Homo sapiens: one gene and its partners. The protein of the gene in region 1 purifies or fractionates together with the protein of each later gene. This does not show direct contact. Each region holds a gene or a part of one and is shown on either strand. Other genes may lie near its edges.

Region 1 (3,500 bases):
CCTCTGGGTGTATTCATCCTGGGCTCGGTCCACAGCTTGATTCACCTTCTTTACTGTTTGTTTCTTCACCTCTCTGGCAATGTCCTTGGCACCCTTCATCAGTGAAGTCCTATCCTTGTAAGAGTCTTCCATCTTATCTCAACTGATGGCCAATGAGAAGATGGGAAATTTTCACAGCCTCCTTTCAGTGGTTCAGCTCTGACAGCATCATCCACTTTGGGTTCAAAACAGAACTGCGAAAGAAGAAATAGAGGAGATACTTATTATTCCTTTCTATATATATATTTTTTACCGTCTATTTCTTGACCTCTTTTCAGTGTCCCACAAACTACAACACAGAATTAGTTTTTCCTTTTTTTTTTTTTTTTGATCTCACTGTATATACATGTACACCCTAGGCTGCTTCTCTGCTTAAGTGTGAGCATCACTTGGAGTATTTAGGGTTTTCGCTGCTATTATTATTGTTTTATTTTAAGGAATTCTATCCCCAGGGTAACAGTACACAGGAATTCCCCTGAGAATAAAACAGAGCATCTTGCATCTTTAAAAGCACGCCCAACACATTTTGAAATGCTACAAGCATATACCTTGATTGAGAAAAATAGTATTGCTCACAGACACGTACAAATATTGCAAAGACAAACCAGAGTATTAGAAGAATCCTACTGGGCCTATTTCCTCACACTGAAAAGCAAGCAGCCCCATATACAATTGCTATCAATCAAACTATAGCTATATTTGTAAAATTGAATTTCTCCCCTACTTAACATTGTGTTTCCTTCCAACAAATGGTAACAGAGACTCACATGGCACCCCAAACTGGCAAGGAGTATATTCCCATAGCATAGTGTCATATCCACAGGATTGTCAGAGTTCATCAAATGATTTTATGGCTGCATTTGATATTGAATTAGAACATATGGCTTGTTTGGTGGGAGTCTGCCCTTTCAGAAACTACCCCCAGGCCTTCAGGGACAGGTAAGCTCCATGCCATGTCCCTTCACAACCCCACTTCTATTTTCTTCATCTCTGGATACCCAGTACGCACACACACTCTCTCTCTCTCCCTCTCTCCCTCTCACATCCTCCCACCTGCCACTCTGGTTAGCTGCTGTTTTGGTAGTAAAGTCTGGACCTTCCAGGACCTGTTATTTGGTTTTCTTTTTCACTGATAGTCCCCTCATGCCTTGGTTCCTTAAATTCAGGCTGACCTCAAGGTAACTTATATTCCATTTGTCCACTCAGCTGCCTCTTCTGGTGGCTCATGTGAGTCACTGACAGGTTCATCCTTGTACACAGATGATAACAGAGGTTAAAAAAGTCTTTCTCCCCCATCATTAACTCCCCAAGCCTTAAGCTATGGCAGCATTCCAAACATTGATTTATATAATCGTCATTTCTACTTTTTCATTTTGTAGCTAGTTTAAAATATTTAAAGTAGCTATTACTAACATACATTTAATTACTCCTCCAAATGCCACAAACAAACCCAGCAATAAAGACAAACAGATGTTTGTTTATAAATGGACCATGCTTCATTCCCACTGAATACCTACAAATGCCCAGTAGGCAAAACAGGAGTATGGTTCTCACAGGCTGCGTTTTGGAAAATGATAAAATGAAATTAAAATAAACATATGATTGCAAGGTTTTTAACCAAATGTTTTAGTAAATGATTTTTCTGTTTGTTCTCCCCCAGCTCTTTTTTTTTTTTTTTTTTTTTTTTTTTTTTTTTTTAAGAACTGAGAGGAAGAGAAAGGGAGGAAGAGAGACATGGGAAAATCCATGAGAACAGTAAGAAAAAATGGAAAGGTGGTGAGAAGGGAGGCTGAGGATGGGGTGCTCAGAAACTCAAGAAGTCAGGGAAAAGGGGCAGAGAGGACAATGATGAAGTTGAGAGACATTTCCTACTTTAAAAATTAACAGAAAATCTGAATATTTCACACAATAAATAAAATAAACTGCCATCCTATCCATTGAACGGATGACCACATCAGACACTGCATATCAGCTGCTTCCTGTACATAATCAGCTCCAGAAATACCATTAAGTGAGCTCCAAATTCTGGTTAGTTGAAAGCAGAGTCTGAATGACCCTACAGCACTACCCCAGTGCCTTTCATAATGGAAAGCTTCTGCCATAGCTGTTTCCAAGAAATTGTATATCAACTGACTGCATTTGGCTTTTTTGCTTTTGTCCTCAGCCACAGGTATCCTTACCACATGCTTTACAGGGTTTTCATCCCTAAAGAGGTCCTTGTATAGGAGCCACCTCTGTAAGAGGCAAGAGGTATGATATCTTAAATGTCATAGTTATGGCTGGAAAAGTGGACAGTTCTAATCCCCTAAGTAGTCTAAGCACTTGAGCAATGAGAAATAAAATAAAACAAGAATTTTACAATTAAACATTCCAATTTTGAAAAAATTCTTGCAGAAATCTTAGTTTTAATTCCAGGACAAAACAAAGGATGTGCACATATAAGTTCTCTTTTTGTCTTTCAAGATTTCTCATCCCCCAAATCGAAGCTCAGGTAAGTTCCTTGAGGGAAGAGACTTGTTCTTTAGTTTGTAGTCTTACTAAAGCAAAGAAGATTTTTCTGTGCCCTTTCATAAACAAGAAATATGAATACTTATTCAAAAATGCTATATAAAATTAGATGTTTGTAGATATTGCCATTGGGGTTAGCTGGTGAAGGGTACAGGGGTCTCTCTGAATCATTCCTTACAACTGCATGTGAATCTACAGTGATTTCAAAATACGGAGTTAAACCAAAACCCCAAGTTTGTACTATCCTTATAAAGCCATCTTGGAATATGTGCAGGATGATTGGCTGGGGGCAGACTGTTCAGGGGCAGAGTTATAATTCTATGGCTATTATCTCCCTCTGGTAAATGGAAAAATGTGAAGAGCTTGGCTCATTCCAGATATTGCCAGGAAAATGGCAGATTTGTATCTACATGGGAAGGTTATGCTTGAATTAAAGCAGCACTTCTCAAGGGTGGGGCTTACACACCGGGTGTGGCCTATAAGAAGGTCCGCAAGCAGCTGTTTATAGCATCATCAATATTTTCTTTTGTTTCTCGAATCGATTATGGAGTTATGCCACATAATATATGTCAGACTTTGTTTCAATGAAAAACAAAACAAACCACCTTGATTTGGTGCTTACTATATGTCAGGCATTGTGCTAAAAACTTCCTGTACATTGTTTTATTCTTTTATTTAATCTTTACTTCAATCCTACAAAATAGACATTATAGTCTTCCATTTTACAGATGAAAAATTAAGGCTTAGAGAGATTAGCCCAAAGTCACAAAGCTTGTTAGAGGAGATGCCGGACTCAAGCTCAAATGTGTCTGACCCCAAAGCCTTACCCCTTATCTTCATCTGCCTCACCCAGTGGTCTCACTGAGGTCTTATTAAATGCAGTGGCCTTCTTCCTAGTCATTCCAGTATTCCAGTAACTTTTTTTCCTACACTAAAATTGTTTTATAACCGCT
Region 2 (3,500 bases), on another chromosome or scaffold:
TCTGAACAGTGGATGTGGGAATTTTCTCTCTATGTATATTTCTTTGTTTCTTTCTTTTAAGTTTTCTTTCTGTTTCTTTTTATATATGTTTCCTTTATTCATCTAATATCAACTGAACATCTAGTATGTGTAGATACTATGATTGGTATAGGTATACTGTAGTGAACTAATTAGCCTTCATAGTTTATAATCTCTTGTGAATTTAGTTAGCATAAGGCAGTCCTTGAGAAACTGCACATGGGAAAACTGGTATTTCTGTATGTGTGAAGCTCAAGACTGGACCCTGAAGCCGGAACCATGGTGCCGCCCATCTGTGAGGGATCAGCTGGTCTCTCTGAAGTCTTCTTTTCCTTTTGCTAACTACAATATTAACTCTGTCTAATTTGTGAAAGGAGAAATTTCATTTATTTAGCATCAGTAAGTCTTATTACTTTAATGATAAAGCTCATTTCAAAGAATAAAGTACATAAAAACTTAAGATTGTCTGTTTCTAATTATGGTAATGATTTTAACTAAAGTGTCAGTACCAAAGAATACACACACACACCCCGCCCCCCTCAGTCTCTGAATATTTTTTTTCTTTGATGACATACAATGAAGCAGTTTATGATGTATGAAATCGTTAAAATCAGGTGATTGCTTTCCTCACAAATCCTAAGATAAATATCTATAAAATGAATGTTTTCATAAATTGTGTTGAAAAACTAGTGCTATCCATCTGGCAAAGATACACTTAACTCCAAGTTATACTTAAAAAGCCAACAAACTTACCATATGTCTCAATAATTTTAAGGTAAAATCTACTTGAAACAAGATGTCTGGGACACATACACCATATTCAGTTGCCCAAAAGTTCATCTGTTAACCATTGTTCTGGCACAGAACATTGCTTTTGGAAAATAGGGACTGACTCTGTTTTATAAAGCTCAACTATTTTTTTCTGTAAAAGATTGCTTAATGTTGATAAGTCTTAATCCTCTTAAAGTTTAAATTGTCTCCAACACATAATATTAAGAAAAAAATATTCCAGGAAAAACTCTAATTTTAGTTTACTTTATCTATACATGTAACTCACTGAACAGATGAGTATATTATTCCATGCAGACAAAGTGACTTCCCTTTTGAACAGGAACTCTGCTCTATTTGTTTACTTGGGCAATCTTTTATCAAGTAAAGCCATTTCATAATTCAATTCAGCTCTTTTGTCTACTTTGGTGAACTTATTCCAGATTCATTACTGTGATTCAGATCCTTATAACAAAATTTGTATTGAAGTGATACTATAAAATCACAAAACCTATACCAACAAAGAGGGTGAGTTTATAGAGAAAGTATGTTCTAAAGCTTTGTTTTCCAAATTCTAGACTTGAATTCAATCCTATTAAATTGCCACTTTGACATCATATAAAGGTTGGATGTTCATGTATATATGTGGGTGATTTTATCATAATTTTTAATCCAGTCACCCTCTTGAACTTACTGAGTAAAAGTATATGAACTGTTCCTTCTTGTCTTTCAGGAGTACTGCGAATACATTTCACACACATGAGTAATGTATGTGAAAAAAAACCTTATGTTGCTTGGAAAGTAAGTCTTTAAGTTTAGGTTATCATTATTATGGAAGGACAAAGCCTTATTTGGTGATGTCAGTGGTGCGGGGGAGGGGAGCAATGCCTGTCAGAGTCGCTATGATCAGGACTTTTGTCTGAGAGAAGACAGTAGTCAGATTGAGTTCTTTTGCCCCTGGACATTCTGCTGGATCTCCCTGTTCCTCTTCAGATACTGAACTAGCAAGTAGTACATAAACCTCTACAGTTATGTGGTTAAGTAAATGGAAATCAGGGTAGTGGAAGTAATAATTTTTGTTAAGAACCAGAATAGAGAATTTTAACAGAGGAGACTAAGGGGGAAAATGAAGTTGGCATTCCAAAAAATTATGTTATATGAGAATCATATATAAAGAAATATGGTATATTGGTTTACTCTGTTCATGAAATGGGAATGATTTAGGGAGAAAAGTTTTCCCTCCTCTCCTCTTTCCTCTTCCCTCCATCTCTCTTTCTTTAATAATTGTTTCTCCAAAGAAAAATTTCTGAGTTGCTTTGAAGAAAGGTCCAAGCTATTTTGTGGTTTGATTACTAGAATTTTATTCACCATGTTGTTTTTTGAATAATTTCCCCATTAGAATGGAATGCTTTTACCTGATTAAAAAAATCTACAAATTGATCTACATATTTGAGAGACTGACCAAGTCTAATTATAATAAAAATTATGCTATAATTTCTGCATTAAAATTTTTAGTGCTTTATATATAATTCATTTTAATGTCTTAAGAGTTTGTTGTGCTGAAGCTGTTACTGTGCCCTACTTTTGCTTGGTGCGAACGCATGCAATGCTTACCTTCACTGCTCTTTTTGGGGTTTCAGCCAAGATAGGTGGCAGAATTCCCTTGTAAAAACCAAATAACCTGTTGGAGAAATAAAAGATTTCCTATGAGTAAGGAAATTAGGCAACAAGTATTTCTGACTTTGTTAAGATAATCCTAAAGTATTCCCGATTATTCAACATAGCACACCAATCATGAAGTCTTCCTTTCATTCTAAAATAAAGAAATAAATTTTATGTCTATTAGCATTATGATATTCAGAAGGTAAATACGTGATACTGAGACAGGAATCCCTTAGATAAGTTGCTAAGCATGACCATTAGTTGTACCTTAACGATGAATCTGACTGTCCTTACTCTAAGGGCTCTTGAGTTTATTTTCTCAGTTGTGTGGCAGGTAGCTTCAAGCTATCTACAGTCCTGCATTTCCTCCCTTGTGGCAACCAAATGAGGTTAGGATTATACCTGAACCCATTAGACTGTACCTTTCTGAGGCTAAGGAGGTGATGAAATTTTCAATTTTAGCTTTACTAATACAAGGGAACTAACAAGCTCTGTGGGTATGGTACTAGAGCTTCCAGCCCCGTCCTGATTTAGTCATAATTTTCAGGCTTCCTTGATGGAAGTGGAAGAAGGTCACAGAGGGCCAGCTACAGGACTATGTATTGCCAACAGAAGAAATGTCAGACTCCCTTGCTGATATGTAAAATCACAGGGCATGAGCCAGTTTACTTTGCCAGTGTTGACGGGCAACATGGTCAGATATTTTTAGAAAAAAAACAAGAATGAGTGACATATGGTTAGATTTATAACAAGTCACCATTTATTTCTTATTATATTTTTAGAATTCAAAATTTTAAATTCCTTTGTCCTGGAATCTTCATATATATGCCATATCTTCATTTCAAACCTTAAAATATATAAATAGAAGAGAATATTATGCATTATTTTCTGAGTAATCACTTTTCCTGATGAGTCCATAACATGTCCCTAATTTAGGATATCCAGCTAACATGGGGCTGCAGCTTCTCTGATTCACCCCCCAAGCTTCACTCCAGCTCCCTTAAACTGGGTCCACTTCTAGCTGTGCTTCTGGGAACAAGAAGTTGAGAATT
Region 3 (3,500 bases), on another chromosome or scaffold:
TCTCTCATGTCAGCTTGAGCTGGATAAGGTCCCAGTGGGCCCTCCCACCCTCACCTGTGGATCAACAAGCCAGCCATGGTACAGAGGTATGCCTAGCAGGTCAAAGACACTGCACTCGGGTGTATACTCAAAATCAGAGACGCCTGTGAATCGCACATTGACATCCAGACCTGTGGCCAGTTTAGGCAGCACTGTCATTGCATCATCCACATTCTGGGGGTAGAAAAAAAAATGATGGAGATTCTAGCCTTCTCTCCCACCACTCCACTCCCACCTGCAGAAATTAAAAATTAACCTTGCTGCTCTTCTTCCCTGATTCTCTTACAAGCCACTCCATTTCTCCCTTGCCTCAACCCTTCTCTATCTTATATAAATGAACATTGTTTTTCTTTGAGAGTCTAAGTCTAATTCTTTCATCCAGGCTGGAGTGCAGTGGTGTGATCCTAGCTCACTGCAGCCTCAAACTCTTGGTTTCAAGTGACCCTCCCACCTCAGCCTCCTGAGTAGCTGGGACTACAGGCACGCACCGCCATACCTGGCTAATTCTTGAAAAAAAAAATGGTTTTTTTTAGAGACAGGGGTATTATTATGTTGCCCAGGCTGGCCTCGAACTCCTGGCCTCAAGTGATCCTCCCGCTTTGGCATCTCAAAGTGCTGGGATTACAGGTGTGAGCACCCGGCCAATGAACATATTTTCTAGGACAAAGATAAACTCTCCTCTGACTCCTGCAGAATGAAATCATGGTTCAAGGAAACCTCTGAAGAAGCAACAAAAGCTTATCTTAGTATTACAAGATGTCCCCTTACAAACCTGCAAACCCCTATGCCTGCAGACCTTTTGCCTCACCTGCTGAAAATTAAGCTGAAGTCCCTCTGACTTCTCCTGGGGCTTGATGGACAGGAGGCAGTTTCCTACAAGACAGGGCCCCTTATCAGCTTACCCCACCAATCATCCCAAAAGCTAAGTTTCCTCTTCTCCTGGAGAATGCGGGTAATGTCACAGAACACAGATTTTCAGAGCTGGAAAATACTTAGAGTCTAATCCAGACTCTTCATTTCTCAGAGGAGGCGACAGCCTCATAAAGGTGAACGGCCCACCCAGGGTCAGATACAAAAGCTAAGGGCAGAATTGGTGTTACAACCCAGGACTCCCGACGCCTTTGCTTTTCATTCTCCAGCCTTGCAGAGAAGCCCCATAGACCCTTACCCTCCCTGCTGTATCAGAACCCCCAAATGGAGATCCCTGAATAGTCTGGATTTCTGGCTGAGTGGATAGCTCTGGAGCCCCTTGGGTAATTCCTCTTCAACGCCCAGTCACTCACCAAGATGGGCCATGAGCTCATCCGATGTGATCACTTCCTTCTGCGGGGGGAGCTTCACCTGGAGGCAGAAGGGGTGATCACGTGTGTGCTTTCCTCCAAAGAGCACTGAAGGAAGAACCCATGGAAAGGCAAGGGGGAGCTCCAGTAGTAGGGTGGGGTAGGAAAAAAGGCTTGCAACTGGCACAAGGGAATGAATGTGAAATCTTGCAAGGCATGTGCATTTGCTAGGGAGTAGGAGATACAGGGGTAGGACAGATCTTCCTCTTTTTTTTTTTTCTTTGTTTTTAGGAACATCTTATCTCATTTGCTCAAGCTGGAGAAATAGGGAGAACAATCTGAAAAGTTTTGACTAGTTTGAGGACATCAGGATGATCAAGGAAGTAAGTCAGGGAAGAGTACTCCCTGATATTTTTTGCACCCCTAACTGCATGTTCTCTTACCTTCCACTGAAGAAAGAGGATGTTCATGATGGCAAGGAGAGGGCAAGGGCCGTTAGTGCTCTGGGTGATGATGGGTGTCTGTTCTCCTTTCCAAGGGATCCACTTGACACAGTAGAAATCTGGCTCAGGCTGTCGGGTCCTGGGGGACTGAGGAAGCTCCTGGGGCATGGAGCATGCCCTTATTGTCTCTACTTCAGGCAGTGTCCCAAGGGTTGGCCCCGGTGGAGCTGAGCTAGCTTCAGGCAGAGGGGACTCAAGGTTGTCCCCACACTGGCTAGGCAGCAAAGCTTGGTCTGCTGGCTCCCGTTCTCTAGCCTCCCCATCAGCATCTCTTGCATCTGTGTCCTGAGGGTGCTCATCTGGGCCTGCCAGAACCTCATGGTTTTCAGGGATGACTGCTTCTGCAGTCCCGGCCTTACCAGGGGCTGGATCCTCAGGCTGATGGTATTCCATGGTCAAAAGGGACTTGGCTGAGGGGCACTGAAGGTGTTTACTAACCTCAGGGACTTGCCTAAGCCAGGCTTGGGATGCAAAAGAGTGACCTGTCCAATAAGAAGGAAATCAGTGGGCTGGAAAGCAAACTAACCCAGAAAAGTCTTGGAAAAGGAATGTAGTGTAGAAGGCTGGCTAGTGTTTGTGCAGTAACTCCTGGCTATGGGCAGTATATGTGTAAACAGAAGGGCCCCGTGCTGAGCTCTTTCCACCTCTAACTTGCTGTGACCAGATGAGACCAAGAGGTCGTGGGGCTTCCAGACTTGGGAGGGAAGACTGGTGGGATTGAACACATGGGTGGAGTCAGCTTCCCTGAAACAGATCATGACAGGGAAGGGAGGAAAGACAGAGAGAAAGGGAGAGCACAAAGGAGAAAGAAGGATAAGAGGTGGAGAAAGAAATGTTAAATCTACGCTAATGGTTATTAATATGATGATCTTTAGCTTACTCTAATAGGCATCACATCAGTAACCCCCTCATAGCCATGACAGAGATAATTCCTCTGCCCTACCCCACACCCTGCCCCTTCACACAACATACTAAGAATACACAGTGCTTGTATGTTTAGGGATACCTTCTCTCTGCCTCACCCAAGGATAAAAAGATTAAGTCACATAGTACTTGGGGTGAAGAATGGAGGAGGCACAGAGAGTCAGTTTCATGCCCCTAAAGGTGAAATGCTGGTGAGGAAGGGGAAGTCTTCCACCTCAAAGGGCTCTACTGAACCTTACACAATCCCAAACCACAGTATAAAGGCCTTGGGAGGGGTTTCCTGTAAGCTGGGAGGGGAAATGTAGGTGGTGGGGGCTGGAATCAGAGACTGGTTTTGATAAATAACTTCAGATTAGGGGCACAAAAAGCACTCCCCACAAGTTCTTCCAGTAAGCTTCTCTTTAAAAAAAATTAATAAAGATATCAAATTTCTTTTAATTAAACTGAGACAGGGTCTTGCTTTGTTGCCTAGGCTGGTCTTAACTCCTGGGGGCCCAAGCAATCCGCCCTCCTCAGCCTGCCAAAGGACTGGGATTACAGGCATGAGCCACGGTGCCTGGACCCAGTAAGCATCTCTTGACAGCTAGCATTGAGACAGCAACTTTTCCTCAGTTCATTTTTTTTCCCCAGAAACTACCTAAACCCAGAGGTACTCTCTTGCCTGCTATTTCTATGAAATATGAAAATGCTGATTATTAATTTACATAACAATACTTCCTGTACATTCACCTACCTAAAGTTTTATGTCTATTCC
Region 4 (3,500 bases), about 97 Mb from region 1:
TAGCCCTGGAGAAGGCAAGGTTTTCTGTCCACACCCTCTCTCTGCTTGCACACTCTGGGCCTTCTTAGCTTGATCCTCTTTCCTGTCCAGCAGCTGAGGGTCCATCGTAGCTGCAGACATTTGTGGACGGCCGACGTCGGATGACATGTTACCATGACACAAAACGACAATGACCACGGCACCACACCAAGAATCATCTACCTCTATTACAACCAGACATTTGCACTCAAATAAGGAGGTGCTGCCGTATACTTATCCGTTGCTGGAGGCAGCATGAATGGGAACCAGACACAGCTGGAAAGCAATCGGGTAACAGAGCGCCAACCCTGTACATATCAGAGGCATTATTGCCACAGTGAAACACAGGAAACGACAGACACTTTCGGTGAGAAGACAATGACTTAGAAAAGCAGAGCAGAGTGGGGACAGATCACCTGAGGTCAGGAGTTCAAGACCAGCCTGGCCAACGTGGTGAAACCCTGTCTCAACTAAAAATACAGAAAATTAGCTGGGCATTGTGGCAGGCACCTGTAATCCCAGCTGCTCGGGAGACTGAGACAGGAGAATTGCTTGAACCCGGGAGGCTGAGGTTGCAGTGAGCCGAGACTGTGCCACTGCACTCCAGCCTGGGTGACACAGTAAGACTCCGTCTCAAAAAAAAAAAAAAAAAAGCACAGCAGAGCTGCAAGATGGACAACTGTGCTCCCATTACAACTGGAAAGTAAGAAAATCGTGGCTATGTAATAAGGTCAAGTACAAAAAGCAGACGGTAAACTGCAATCCATGCCTTGGAAAAAAAGAAAAGTGAGTTCTGCTTATGGACAAGGACTCACAGGGACACAGAAAAATGAGGTTCGATTTGTCGGGGGGGCAGGTCACAGAGGGATGTTTTCTTTGCCTTGGATCCCTGACAATGGGAGAGCAAACGCATTTCAGGAAATAATAAGAAAAGATGTGGGTTAAAAGGTGAGCTCAGGTGAGGAAATAAGAAAAATCCAGGTACCCTGTGCAGCAGTGGGTCTGCAGGTCTGCTTGAGCACACAGGCCTCCCGGGCCCATTCTGTGCACGTGTCTGGGGCCATGTGAGCTCATGTGTGTTGGTGTGCACGAAAGGTATGCGTGCTCTCCTGTCTGCGTGTGGAGATGTGCGGTTCTCTTTGATCTGGGCCAAGGTGCCAGGGAGCTAAGGAGGGCGAGGACTCTAGGAGGAGCCACTATCGATGGGAGGAGTCTGAGCAGGAGGAGAGTGAGGTGTGGGGGAGGCAGCCATGTGGTCACAGCTGACTGGGCCACCCACAGACCTGTTCTCACGGTGCGACCTGGAGGCAGAACAGATCCTGGTTCTGCCATAGCTCCCTGTGGGATCTTAGGTAATTAGTTCAACTAAGGATGATGATGTGGCTGTGATGAGAGCAACAATAATGGTAATAGCTGGTATCCACTGCGTGCGTGCGTCTGCTGTGCCCCGGGACAAGCCTTCTTCCTTCTCCATCAGGGTCTGGGTCTGGACGGGGCTGGGTCCACCTTCCCACTGGTTAGCTGTGGGAATGGAGTGTGAGCAGCAGCCTCCCTGCCTTGGAGTGGGTGCTGGACAGGCACCCCCACCTCTCTGCCCTCCCCCTCCCTGCCTGCTGTACTGGGCATCTTGGAGCAGAAGGCTGTTCCCAGCAGGGATACATACGGTTGGAGGTGAGTCTGTCTGCTCCCCCGAGAGCATTGAAAGCTCCGTGGATGTTCTGGACCTGTGGAAAAATGCAGTGAGGGGATGGTCCCCAGGACACCTCCACCTCCAGGCCTGGCCCTGGTTGTGGGGGATGGCCAGGTACCACCTGGTCTAGGAACCCTACCAATGTGTAAAAGGGGGCTCCAGCGGATTTGTGGGGAGCAAGAGGCAGCAGGGGCCTGGCACATAGTAGGCACAAGCTTGTTTCCCATCTCTAGCCCCTACTATGTGCTGCTCCATCCTGGCCCCTTCATATAATTTCATTTCATGCCCCTAATGATGTATTATTGGGCCCATTTTACAGAAGAGCAAATCAAGGCTTGGAAAGACACCAAAACTTGCCCGGCTGGTAAGTGGCTAAGCTAAACTCTGAAATCAGGTCTGTCTGACACTAAGCTGGACTCTTTCCATGAAGTCACACAGAAAATTCAAGTGAACATGGATTCTGGGTCCCAGAAAGTTTCTCCTGAGATCCCAGGGTCCTCTGAAAGGCCCATAGAGGAGTCCAGGCAGGGATGCCCCAGAGCTGTGGGCCCCCCATCATGTCTGCTGCAGAGAACGTATAGCAGATGTGAAGAAAACCCTCCTCCGGGCAGTGGGGTGGGCTGCTGTAGAGTAGGGCTGAAAACCACATCTCACCTTTTCTCTGAGGACAATGGGAAACCAGGTTGGCCTCAAGGAACATCTAAAGAAGGACAAGGCATACCTGGTAAATGGAGCATGCTACCATGGGCATGGTTAACAGGGGTTATCGAGCTAGACACCCTGGAGGCCTTCCTGGAGGAAATGACATTGACACCAAGATCTGGAGGAAAGTGGGAAGTTAAACTGGCAAGCAGCATGTACAAAGGCTTAAGTATGGAGACAGGCCCACGTGGCCCCCAGGAGGAAGGAGAGTGAGGTGTTTGAATAGAAGGAAGGAGGAGACATCGGAGAGGTACGTGGGGACATGATTCTGTGGCCACTCCAGGAGCAGTGGGCAGCAGCGGGGTGGCATAATCCCTGATCCTGGTCTCAGGCGGCTGATGTTTACTGAGCACTTAACACACCTGCATGTTCTCAACAAGCAATTCCTCAACAACTGGAAGGAACTGCAATTTCTCAACAAGGAAAAGGAAGTTTGTCTATTTGCTGTCTTGAGACTGACCGTGTGAAGGCTTCATTTCTAACCCATGAGAACGGTGGTTACAGAGACAAGAAGGCTAGAATGTTCTCTTCCATTGTCATGTGACATGGCTTTATCTCACATTTATTTGTACCATTTATTTTTATTTTTATTTTTTCTTTTTTTGGGAGGAGTCTTACTCTTTCTCCCAGGCTGGAGTGCAGTGGCATGATACCAGCTCACTGCAATCTCCACCTCCCAGGTTCAAGTGATTCTCCTGCCTCAGCCTCCTGAGTAGCTGGGATCACAGGTGCCTGCCACCACGCCCGGCTAATTTTTGTATTTTTAGTAGAGACAGAGTTTCACCATGTTGGCAAGGCTGGTCTCAAACTTCTGACCTCAAGCAGTTCGCCCGCTTCAGCCTCCCAAAGTGCTGGGATTACAGGAGTGAGCCACCGCACCTGGCCTGTACCATTATTTGATCAACATCTGTCTTCCCCCCTAGACTGGAAGCTCCAGGTGGGCAGGGACCATGTTTGTCCTCACCAAGGTATGCAAGGCCTGGACACGGTAGGTACTTTGTAAATATTTGTTGACTAGATGGATGGACAGAAAATGAATGGATGGATGGGCCCTAAGCTAAGTTCTGTACATTTTTTTAAAAAAATCAGA
Region 5 (3,114 bases), on another chromosome or scaffold:
TTCTCCTGCCTCAGCCTCCCGAGTAGCTGGGATTACAGGCGCACGCCACCACACCCAGCCAATTTTTTGTATTTTTAGTAGAGAGGGGGTTTCACCATGTTGGCCAGGCTGGTCTTGAACTCCTGACCTCAGGTGATCTGCTTGCCTCGACCTCCCAAAGTGCTGGGATGATAGGCATGAGCCACCGCACCTGGCCCCTAATTTTTGTAATTTTGGTAGAGACAGGGTTTCAGTATGTTGCCCAGGCTGGTCTTGAACTCCTAGACTCAAGCAGTCTGCCTGCCTCAGGCTCCCAAAGTGCTGGGGTTACAGGCATGAGCCACTGCGCCGGGCCAAGAAGTCTTCTCTAAAAACAAAAACAAGGCAAAGGCATTCAAAGGCACAACCCTCTCCCAAGGCAAGTGCTGTGCAGAGACAGGCAACTAGAAGGGAGGGACACCCTTCCCCGGGTCCCCAGTGCGAGTGTCCACCCCCCGGAGAGGTGAGGGGACTCGCTGGGCTGTGCAGCCCAACTGCACAGGCAGGGCCCCACTCACCTGATACTCCCCCTTGGAGTTCATCAGGCGAGTCTTCAGCACATCCAGGGGCTGGCACAGGAACGTGGCACATCCACCCTGAGGAGGGGGCTCGTCACCAGCGGCCTGTCAGGTACGCCAGGCACCATCGCCGAATCCCACCCACGTGCCAGAACCTCCACCTGACTCCTAGGGCGGGCCAGGAACATGCTGGCGGGGGCACCAGGCTGACCCATGAGCTCCCAAAGCCCTGGCACCCCACTTATGAGCCCCAGGGGGCACTGCCAGATGCCCAAGGCCCCCGCCTCCCCCAGCCCTCGCCCCATCCTGGGTGCCCTCAGCGCCCAAGGCCGGCCCAGGGACGCCCACCCTAGCCATGCCGGCCACTTACTGCAATAAAGCTGGCGACAAAGTGAGTGAAGATGTTGTCAGAGAGGTACCCGGTGCTAAGGACCAGCTGCTTGGCCTGGTCGTAGCAGGACAGCTGCAGGGGCACAAGGGCGGTCAGGGCTGTAGGGGGGACCCCAGCTTGGGGAAAGCACACAGGGCCCCAGGCGACACCACCTGGCAATGGCCAAGCACCTGCTCCGTCTGTCCGTCCGTGAGGCCCAGACAGGGGAGGCACCTGCCCGAGGTCCTTCACAGGCTGCAGCCCTGACCCACCCGTGCCCCCCACCCTGCCCCACAAGGTCACAGCTGGTGGCTCCCCAGGAGGGTTTTGGCGCCCAGTGCCTTGTTCTATGGCCCCTCTGAAGATGGAGGTCAGTGGTCACAGGCACTGCCCACACCCACCCCACGCAGGAGGCCTACCTGGCCCACAGTGACTAAGGCCCCTCGGCTGGATGCCATGGTTGCACCCGAGAACAGTCTCCTGAGACCCTCTGCACAAGGAAGGGGTGAGGCAAGGGGTGAGGCAAGGGGTGAGGCCAGGCACCTGGCCCAAATCCCTCAGCGCCCAGTCTTCTACAGCGCTGCCCACCCTGCCTGCCCCCCAGAACCCTGCCTGTGCACAGCACCTGCCCCTCACCTTCACGAGCTACGCGGTACAGGCCATCCAGCGCATGGGCGTAGCTGCCGGGGACACAGAATGACCACATGAGACTCCCCCTGACCACCGGCTCCCACAGAGGGTCCTCCCAGGCCCCGAGGCAGGCCGGGGGTTCTCGAGGAAGCAGAGGCCTCATGGGCCTGAAGATCTCTCCCTGGGAACATGAAGCTGGTCCTGACGTCCCACAGCCACCTCGCCCGCCCCGCCCGGCCCTCAGGGAGGAGGTTCCATCGTTTCCAACAGAGTCCCTGGCTGGGCACCGCTCCTAGCATGCAGGCCTCCTGCCCGCCAGCCCCCGGGGTCCTGGGGGAACACAGTCTGTGTGCACAGCTAGAAGCCAGAACTCCCCAGGGGTCCTTGGAAGGGGCGGGGGAAGTGGCTCACACTGCAGTTGGAGCGGACCCCGGGCCCTGGAAAGACCCCAGGCCGTGGCAGGAGGGCACAGCTGCCCTGAGCTGGGCAGGGAGGCAGCGCCTCCTTCGGGCGTTTCTGTTGCATGCGCTCTCTCCATGCCTGGGGCGTTCGCCTCCGCACTCACCACCCTGGGGTGCAAACAGGCCCAGCCCCCAATCCAACAAGGCTCTCCCCACAGGAAGAACCCAAAGGTCCTGGGGGCGCAGAGTGACACCCCCGAGTCCAGAACAGCCGTCAGGACCCTCCATGGACCGTGCAGGCACCTCGGCCTGCTGGAGCCTCAGCTGGGTCACGGCAGAGCAGCCAGGGGTCCGCTCCCGCCCGAGCCTCCTGCACCTCAACCACCCCGAGAAGGCCGCCCATGACTCACTTGCGCCGCTGACCCTGGGGCAGCTTCACGTCGTTCTGCATCCTGAAACAGAAGCAGGTGGCGGGAGGGGCGGGCGGGCCGAGGGGCATGGGCAGCCCTGGCAGCACAGGGGAGCTCACGCTGGTCAGCGGGGCCCACAGGACAGGGCACGCCGGGGCTCAGGGACACCCACCCTCCTATGCCCAGGACACCAGGGTCTCAGTGGCTTATTCCAGGCTGACCCCACCCTGCAAGCAGCCCTGGCAGGCCCTGGCATGTCTGGGGACAAGAAAGCCCCTGGCCTTGCAGGTGGGGTGGGGGAACACCAACCTGACGTTGACCAAGTCTGCGGGCGTCCCCACGAAGCCTCCAGCTAAACCTGCGGTGACACAAACCCCAGAGATGAGCCGTGCTGACACACGGCGTCCTCGGCCGACCTGACCACCCCGCGCCCCTCCCCCTCCCGCCCGGCAGCTCACCGCTGACGGAGCCCAGCAACACCTTCTCGTGGAAGGGGAGAGGCCCCTGGCTGCCCTTGGCCACACGGTCCCGCACAGTCTCGTAGATGGCGAACCGAGTCAGGGAGTAGGTCATCTGGGGGAGAAGGGCCTGGCTTGGAGGGACGGGCACGCCCCACACCCCTCAGCCTCGCCACCCGGCCCAGCCAGGGATCCCCCTCAGCCCGAGGGGCCACAGGGACCCTGAGGGGCCTTCCCAAGGCCACTGTGCCAGCATGCGGCTGAGCCAGTTCACAAATCTAGAGCTGCACCCTGCTTTCTCACTCCCTG
Region 6 (3,194 bases), on another chromosome or scaffold:
ACCCCCCAACCACAGTGGACACCCCTCTAGGGCCCACCTCAGCTGTAGTGGTACCTGCCACGGGGCCAGCCCCCCACAGCGCAGGGGCTGGTCTGCTGCGGATCTCAGTGAAGGAGGTGGTGCGGAGGCAAGAGGCTGGGCTAGGTGAGCCTAGCTTGGTGGCCCTGGTGGTGTTTGGGGCCCTCACTGCTGCCCTGGTTCTGGCTACTGTGTTGCTGACCCTGAGGGCCTGGCGCCGGGGTGTCTGCCCCCCTGGACCCTGTTGCTACCCTGCCCCACACTATGCTCCAGCGTGCCAGGACCAGGAGTGTCAGGTTAGCATGCTGCCAGCAGGGCTCCCCCTGCCACGTGACTTGCCCCCTGAGCCTGGAAAGACCACAGCACTGTGATGGAGGTGGGGGCTTTCTGGCCCCCTTCCTCACCTCTTCCACCCCTCAGACTGGAGTGGTCCGTTCTCACCACCCTTCAGCTTGGGTACACACACAGAGGAGACCTCAGCCTCACACCAGAAATATTATTTTTTTAATACACAGAATGTAAGATGGAATTTTATCAAATAAAACTATGAAAATGCAAGTGGGCTCCTATGCCAGAAAAACCCACCTGGCGTTCCAGATGCAAGAGGGCCAGAGCAGAGGCCTGGTTCTGGGGAAGCCTCAGGATGCTGCCCACCAAGGAGTGATTTCCAAAGAGTAATCCAGGGTGCCCTTTTCCCTTCTGGGGAAGTGTGGAGAGGTAGAGCCCCAGAGGAGAATGTAAACAAGCAGCCAGCACCTCTGTATAGGCCCGGCCTGGATCAGAGAGAGGGGAGAACTCTGCAGGGTGTGGGATTGGGCTCAGGGACCTCCGAGTGAGGCAGGGACTCCCTGCTGGCTGCTCTGCAGCAGCTGCTGGAACAGGGAGTGGGGCTGGTTGCGCAGGGTGGCCGGGGAGTCCAGCTCTACCACTCTCCCCGCTTGTAGCACCAGCACCCGGTCTGAGTTCAGGATCGTGTTGAGCCTGTGAGGGGGAAGATGGTCAGTGTAGGGGATGAGGGACAATGCCCTAAGTAAGAACACTGACCTGCTTTCCCTCCTCTCCCCTCGGGACACCACAGGTCTGTCCCCACAGGCTTTAGCCCCTGGCTTGGTGCTGGGGAAGGGACTGCAGAGTCCCTCAGATAATGTGCTATAAAGGGCCCTAGGCAGTGCTATAAAGGGCCCTCAGATAATGTGCTATAAAGGGCCCTAGGCAGTGCTATAAAGGACCCTTCTCGTCCCTGGAGAAGGAGGAGCTGAGATCTGGGGGGGCAGGATCTCTAAGGCCCTGACCACTGGGGTCCCTGAAAGCAACGGAGGCTCTCGGTGCATGCTACCACAGTCCCTGATTAGGCTGTTACCAGGCGTTTACATACCTATGGGCAATGGTCAGCACTGTCTTGTTGGCAAAGCGTTTGCAGATGGTCTGCTGGAGCAGCTGGTCTGTCTTCTGGTCCACACTTGCTGTGGCCTCATCGATACACAGGATCTGGAATATGGGAATGGGGTAGGGGATAAGAAGGAAGGAGAGGCTGCAGGGTGGGTTGGGCCTGGCCCAAGCAACAGCCCCTACCACAGCTCCCCACTTCCAGCTCTAAAAGGAAAATGAACTTGGTCCCCTAAAACCTCTCCCCACTCTACCTCCCCACCTCCCGGCCCCCAGCCTTCTTCCTGGCCCTCTCTAATGTCTCTTTCTCTCACCTTACCTTGGCATCTGTGAGGAGAGCCCTGGCCAAACACAACAGCTGCCTCTGCCCAAGAGATAAGCTCCGGCCCCCCTCACCCAGCTCACCATCCAGACCACCTGCAAGGAAAGCATCTTCGTTGCAGGGCCCAGGCCATCCCTGCTCCCTTCTTGCTCTAAGGTCAGGGTCCAGCACTCACCCATGGATGTAATCACCTCACTCAGGTGGCACTGCTTCAGGGCCTGCCACAAGGCCCTGTCCTTATGTAGGCCCTGGGGGTCCAGGTTTTCCCGAACAGTCCCACTGAACAAAAAGGGCTCCTGGGGGATGATAGCCAACTGGGATCTGGGGGACAATGACATGGAGTCTAGTGGTTGGAGATGTAGCCACTTCTGCTCCCAGCTCAGTTTCTGACTACAGGGCTAGCACCTCCATGAAAGCCTGGGTATGAGACCTGAACATAACCCCACTCTGCTCCCCACCCCATCCCCACCAAATGATCTGTTAGTAGCTGGGTACCTAGAACTGTGCCAGTGCTATGAGCAATACCAAAGAAACCAAAGGCTGGACTCTGTCCTCAAGGTGCCTACATTTCACGGAGGTGCACACACACAAACCAGACAAAACAAATGGGCTAAACTGTGTGGCACTGACTCCAGGGGTGGCAGTGGCTACGCAGGGAATGACCAGAGCGACTGAAAGGGCAGGTGACACTTCAAGGTTGGAGTGGGCCTAGAATTGGGTCCTGAAGACATGATGGAGCTATAAGGTAGGGCCACCACAGCTTAGAAGAGAAGGCAGAAGAGGCAGGCCTAGGGCTTTAGGATACAGCTTCCCTACCTTTTCCATGTCACCGTACTCAGAGAAAATGATACTAGGTTGACCTGGAGGTAAGGAAGGGTTGTATACCCTCCAGTGAGGCCACCTGAAGCCAAGGGCAACCGGTTCAGGTCTCAAGCTGTCTGAAGCACTGCCTGCTGAGCCTAGGACTCAGGGGATCAGTATCTTGGGGCACAAGAGTGGAGGGTGTATGGTAGGAAGTACAAGAAAGATGAAGCTGGAAAGGTGGCCTGGGTCAGGGCGAGGAAGACCTTGAGATCACCAGCCATGAATCTGGACCTGGGCACTAGGAGTTCGCTGTCCTTGCCTGCTCATCCTGTCCTCCATTTCAGCCCCCTGATCAGCCCTGGCTGCTGTGAGTTTATATAAAGCCTTCCTGGCTATGCCCTCCTCTAAGTGCCAGTAGTTCTGGTTCCCCCTTCCCCTCCCAAGTCCATCTCCCCCAGACCTGAGCTGGGCCAGCTCCAGCTGGCTGGTGTCCACGCCGTCCAGCAGCACTCGCCCTGAACTGGGCTCTAGCAGCCGGAAGAGCACCAACAACAGGGAAGACTTGCCGGAGCCTGTGCGGCCCACGATGCCCAACTTCTCTCCAGGCTGCACGCAGAAGGTCACTCCATCCAGGGCATTCGGCAGCCCTGGCCGGTACGCCAAC
Region 7 (3,500 bases), about 43 Mb from region 1:
CAATAAAGTAATTTACTGAAGTGCATTTTGTTCATTAATTATCTCTTTCCATGCTTTTCAATGTATGTAATTTGAAGTAAAGTGAACAAATTACTTGAAAGATCTTTTTTCCTCCAAAATATGATGAGATGTAGTCAAGAGAATGATCTTCTTGATTGTTAAAAATCAAAGTTTTAATAAACGCTATGTTAAACTTTAGAAACTTATCCTATACATTTGTAGCAATAACAATTTTTATGAAAGAATAGCCATTGGAATAATTTGAAATGAAGGACTGGGAATTAGAATTTGAATTCCTTTAATGACTATTTTGATAAAAGCCTATTTAGACATTTAGTTCATGCTGTGTACACTTCCTCTTGAAATAAGACCTGGAATTACTACTTAAAAAACACTATTATGATTTGTTCCTAGCCAATTTTATTCTATATTAGCAGAACAAATGTACTTTGAGTACCATTACCTCATGTGGCTATTGTGCTATGCCTTTTACTATTTATAAGGATTCAGCATGGACTGAATTCTGTTTATAAGAGTGCATCCCCTGATCCCCACTTCCCCCCCAAAAAATGCCCAAAATACCAAGGCCCAGTCTCTATCAGTGTATTTACATTAGAATTTTGGGGGATGGGACCTCATAGGGTTTCTTTGTTTGTTTGTTTTAAAGGGCTCCAGCTGATTATAAAGCCAGGTTTAGTAACAGTTGTATTAAATCAGAAAGCCTTTATGTTTGTTCATCTTGACATTTACTTTAGCAGCCTTTTATTTTATCTGGATTATTATATTCTTTTTCATATGAGGCAAAAATAATAAATTTTAAACTTTGTACTGTTTCACAGTGAAATTACACTTCCATTGTAATCAGAATAAATCTTTTTTTTTTCTTCTCCTCCTAAGGTCCAAGAAACTGGAGACATTGTCATTTCAAATGCATATGTGGATCTTGCACCAACATCTGGTACTTCAGCTAAGACACCCTCTGAGGTAGGTTATAAAAATTAGTATCCAAGCCACTTCCTCATTTAGGAATTTCAGTTAAGGTGACTTTAAGAGTGGTTAGGCTACGTTAGAAAATTAACAACCATGAAACTATTCTTAATTCTTGAAGTGAAAAACATTAATTCAAAACAGCTTGGAATAGAAGGAATACTCTGGCAATTTATGAACTTTAAAAAACTCGTTTTGCAGGATACTAGGATATCTTTCAAGAGAACATAATTTTCTAGTTTTAGAATAAATAAATCAGTTGTTTAATCAGAATCTTAAGCAAACAGCGTTTTGGAGAAAAATAGATTAAAAAGTTGAATATCCTGTACCTTTTTCTTGATTTAAAGGTTTATATAAAGTTTTGTATGCAAATATATAAACCAGCAGCGTGTATAATTTATTAAAACATTGTATTATTTATTAGCATGCTGAGACTTTTGATAAAAATGTTTATATTCTATCTCTGAAATATTAACTTTGTAATGTTGAGGTTTCGATACCCATGATCTTTAATTGTCTGTCATAAACCATATAACTGACTGAAAATTAAAATCCCTTAAGAATAGTCTAAGAAAAAAAAAAACTTAGAGCGGGCTCGGTGCCTCACGCCTGTAATCCCAGCCCTTTGGGAGGCTGAAGTGGTTAGGTCACTTGAGGTCAGGAGTTCAAGACCAGCCTGGCCAACATGGTGAGACTCCATCTCTACTAAAAATACAAAAATTAGCCAGCCTTGGTGGCAGGCTCCTGTAATCCCAGCTACTCAAGAAGCTGAAGCAGGAGAATCACGGGAACCCGGGAGGTGGAGGTTGCAGTGAGCCAAGATTGCACTACTGCATTCTAGCCTGGGCGACAAGTCTGTCTCAAAAAAAAAAAAAAAAAACAAAAAACAAAAAAAACCCAAAACTTAAGTTTTAGAGCTGTAAAGAAATTCAGACTTCATGTAATTTAGTATTATTTTATAAATAAAAAAAATGAGACCATAGAAGTTGATTAATTTGATCAGGATCTTTCTAAAGTTAGCTAAAACATAGGTTGTCCAGTTCCTATTTTTCTTTTAAAATATTATTTCTGAATTCTAATAAAAGTAAAATCCTGTTATTAAGAGGACTGAGGTTCTGAGTGATGTATACAAATAAGAAAGTATGAAAGACACATTGTATGAAGAAAACTGACTTATGTACAGAGTTTTAAAAAATCTTTTTTTTGCACATGTTTTATAATCACTTTTCTCCATGAGTTATTTTTACAGAACTTTTAAAGTTTATTTTGTTGTCGTTGTTAGGGCGGGAAGCTTCAGAGTACCTTTGTATTTGAGGAAATAGGACGCCGCCTAAAGGATATTGGGCCTGAGGTGGTGAAGAAAGTAAATGCTGTATTTGAGTGGCATATAACCAAAGGCGGAAATATTGGGGCTAAGTGGAGTAAGTTATAGCCCTGATTTTATAATATTCTAAGGTAATTCTTAGTAAATAAAGTATCTTTTTAACAATTAAAGACCTTTGAAGGTAGGTAAATCTTACCTTTTTAGGTAAGTTTTTTTTCTTTTCCCGTGGGAATGAATAGGTTTGGGAATGTCCAAAGGGGGGTGTGTGTGTGTGTGTGTGTGTGTGTGTTTGTGTGTGTGTGTAAGAGATGTAGGGAATCAATTGAAATGAAAATAACCTGTTTTAAGATTTCATTGTAATCCTTGAAAGTAGTTTAAACAGTCATCTTGGCTATATGCATCTTTATCTAATCTTCAGCTTCTTAAACATAAGGCAAATTCATCAAGTCAAAATGAAGTATTTTTAAGTCATGATATTTGACAGTTACAAAATTATTTTATTCATACCAAAACAATAATTTGGATTATCTTAATTATCAATATAAAATCACTATTTTCTAGATATATACAGATTATGGTCAAAGGTGTTTGTTTATCTAATCTAGGGAAATTATCTATTAGAGTGCCATGCACCCAATATAAAACATCTTGCCGCAGAAAGAAAGCAGTCATATTTCTTTTCACTGATGTGGAGGTCCAAAGAGACCCTGGTACCATTTTGTGAAGAAAGAGAAATTAGAGGATAAAAAGAATAAAGAAAAAATATTCTGTCAGATCTTTTGCATCTGCTGTGTAACTCACATCCTTAATCATGGCACACACTTTAATTATGGAATATTCTAACCTCACCTTTATTTTCCTAGAGATTCTTCAATTAGGTTGAAAAGATGAAAATGGATAGGAGGTAGAGCAGTAAGTCCCTGAATTCCCTTTCAGCAGAGTCTGTTGCTTGTCACAGTTATCTTACTGTATTATGGTCATTTATAATTGTATGTTTTCTCTCATTTGACTTTGGGCTTAATCCTGAGAAATGGCTGCAGTTTGTCTATTTCTAGCTTCTAGTATAGTCAATAACACATAATAACTAGCCTGATTCTGTATATGTTGGAATGAGTGCTAAAAGCCATGTAGAAAGCATAGTTTTAGAAAATAGTATGGCTGCCTTTTAAAAAAAAGGTTCTGAAATTGA

What was found.
Region 2: the proteins of SV2C (region 1) and SLC25A21 purify together in Homo sapiens (affinity purification with mass spectrometry; one large-scale study listed by BioGRID and IntAct). This does not show direct contact.
Region 3: the proteins of SV2C (region 1) and MINDY1 purify together in Homo sapiens (affinity purification with mass spectrometry; one large-scale study listed by BioGRID and IntAct). This does not show direct contact.
Region 4: the proteins of SV2C (region 1) and ERGIC1 purify together in Homo sapiens (affinity purification with mass spectrometry; one large-scale study listed by BioGRID and IntAct). This does not show direct contact.
Region 5: the proteins of SV2C (region 1) and SLC25A10 purify together in Homo sapiens (affinity purification with mass spectrometry; one large-scale study listed by BioGRID and IntAct). This does not show direct contact.
Region 6: the proteins of SV2C (region 1) and ABCC10 purify together in Homo sapiens (affinity purification with mass spectrometry; one large-scale study listed by BioGRID and IntAct). This does not show direct contact.
Region 7: the proteins of SV2C (region 1) and HSD17B4 purify together in Homo sapiens (affinity purification with mass spectrometry; one large-scale study listed by BioGRID and IntAct). This does not show direct contact.

What each region holds. Positions count from the first base shown.
Region 1 is NC_000005.10:76,128,383-76,131,882, reverse strand, and holds part of SV2C (synaptic vesicle glycoprotein 2C), read right to left. Parts: intron 234-3,500; 5' UTR 133-233; coding exon 1-132. UniProt on the Homo sapiens protein: Plays a role in the control of regulated secretion in neural and endocrine cells, enhancing selectively low-frequency neurotransmission.
Region 2 is NC_000014.9:36,732,107-36,735,606, forward strand, and holds part of SLC25A21 (mitochondrial 2-oxodicarboxylate carrier), read right to left. Parts: intron 2,468-3,500; coding exon 2,401-2,467; intron 1-2,400. UniProt on the Homo sapiens protein: Transports dicarboxylates across the inner membranes of mitochondria by a counter-exchange mechanism.
Region 3 is NC_000001.11:151,000,403-151,003,902, forward strand, and holds part of MINDY1 (ubiquitin carboxyl-terminal hydrolase MINDY-1), read right to left. Parts: intron 2,567-3,500; exon of another isoform or gene 2,305-2,566; coding exon of another isoform or gene 2,216-2,304; coding exon 1,763-2,215; intron 1,428-1,762; exon of another isoform or gene 1,381-1,427; coding exon 1,323-1,380; intron 913-1,322; coding exon 848-912; intron 214-847; coding exon 55-213; intron 1-54. UniProt on the Homo sapiens protein: Hydrolase that can specifically remove 'Lys-48'-linked conjugated ubiquitin from proteins. Has exodeubiquitinase activity and has a preference for long polyubiquitin chains. May play a regulatory role at the level of protein turnover.
Region 4 is NC_000005.10:172,924,751-172,928,250, reverse strand, and holds part of ERGIC1 (endoplasmic reticulum-Golgi intermediate compartment protein 1), read right to left. Parts: intron 1,743-3,500; coding exon 1,682-1,742; intron 1-1,681. UniProt on the Homo sapiens protein: Possible role in transport between endoplasmic reticulum and Golgi.
Region 5 is NC_000017.11:81,715,284-81,718,397, reverse strand, and holds part of SLC25A10 (mitochondrial dicarboxylate carrier), read right to left. Parts: intron 2,921-3,114; coding exon 2,806-2,920; intron 2,706-2,805; coding exon 2,657-2,705; intron 2,390-2,656; coding exon 2,348-2,389; intron 1,587-2,347; coding exon 1,543-1,586; intron 1,397-1,542; coding exon 1,326-1,396; intron 1,000-1,325; coding exon 907-999; intron 642-906; coding exon of another isoform or gene 615-641; coding exon 537-614; intron 347-536; coding exon of another isoform or gene 230-346; exon of another isoform or gene 54-229; intron 1-53. UniProt on the Homo sapiens protein: Catalyzes the electroneutral exchange or flux of physiologically important metabolites such as dicarboxylates (malonate, malate, succinate), inorganic sulfur-containing anions, and phosphate, across mitochondrial inner membrane.
Region 6 is NC_000006.12:43,447,734-43,450,927, reverse strand, and holds the end of ABCC10 (ATP-binding cassette sub-family C member 10), read right to left. Parts: coding exon 2,991-3,194; intron 2,048-2,990; coding exon 1,902-2,047; intron 1,822-1,901; coding exon 1,724-1,821; coding exon of another isoform or gene 1,719-1,723; intron 1,507-1,718; coding exon 1,394-1,506; intron 1,000-1,393; coding exon 837-999; 3' UTR 501-836; downstream 1-500. Other genes in the region: DLK2 (protein delta homolog 2), read left to right, coding at 1-389. UniProt on the Homo sapiens protein: ATP-dependent transporter of the ATP-binding cassette (ABC) family that actively extrudes physiological compounds, and xenobiotics from cells.
Region 7 is NC_000005.10:119,528,997-119,532,496, forward strand, and holds part of HSD17B4 (peroxisomal multifunctional enzyme type 2), read left to right. Parts: intron 1-897; coding exon 898-984; intron 985-2,269; coding exon 2,270-2,408; intron 2,409-3,500. UniProt on the Homo sapiens protein: Bifunctional enzyme acting on the peroxisomal fatty acid beta-oxidation pathway.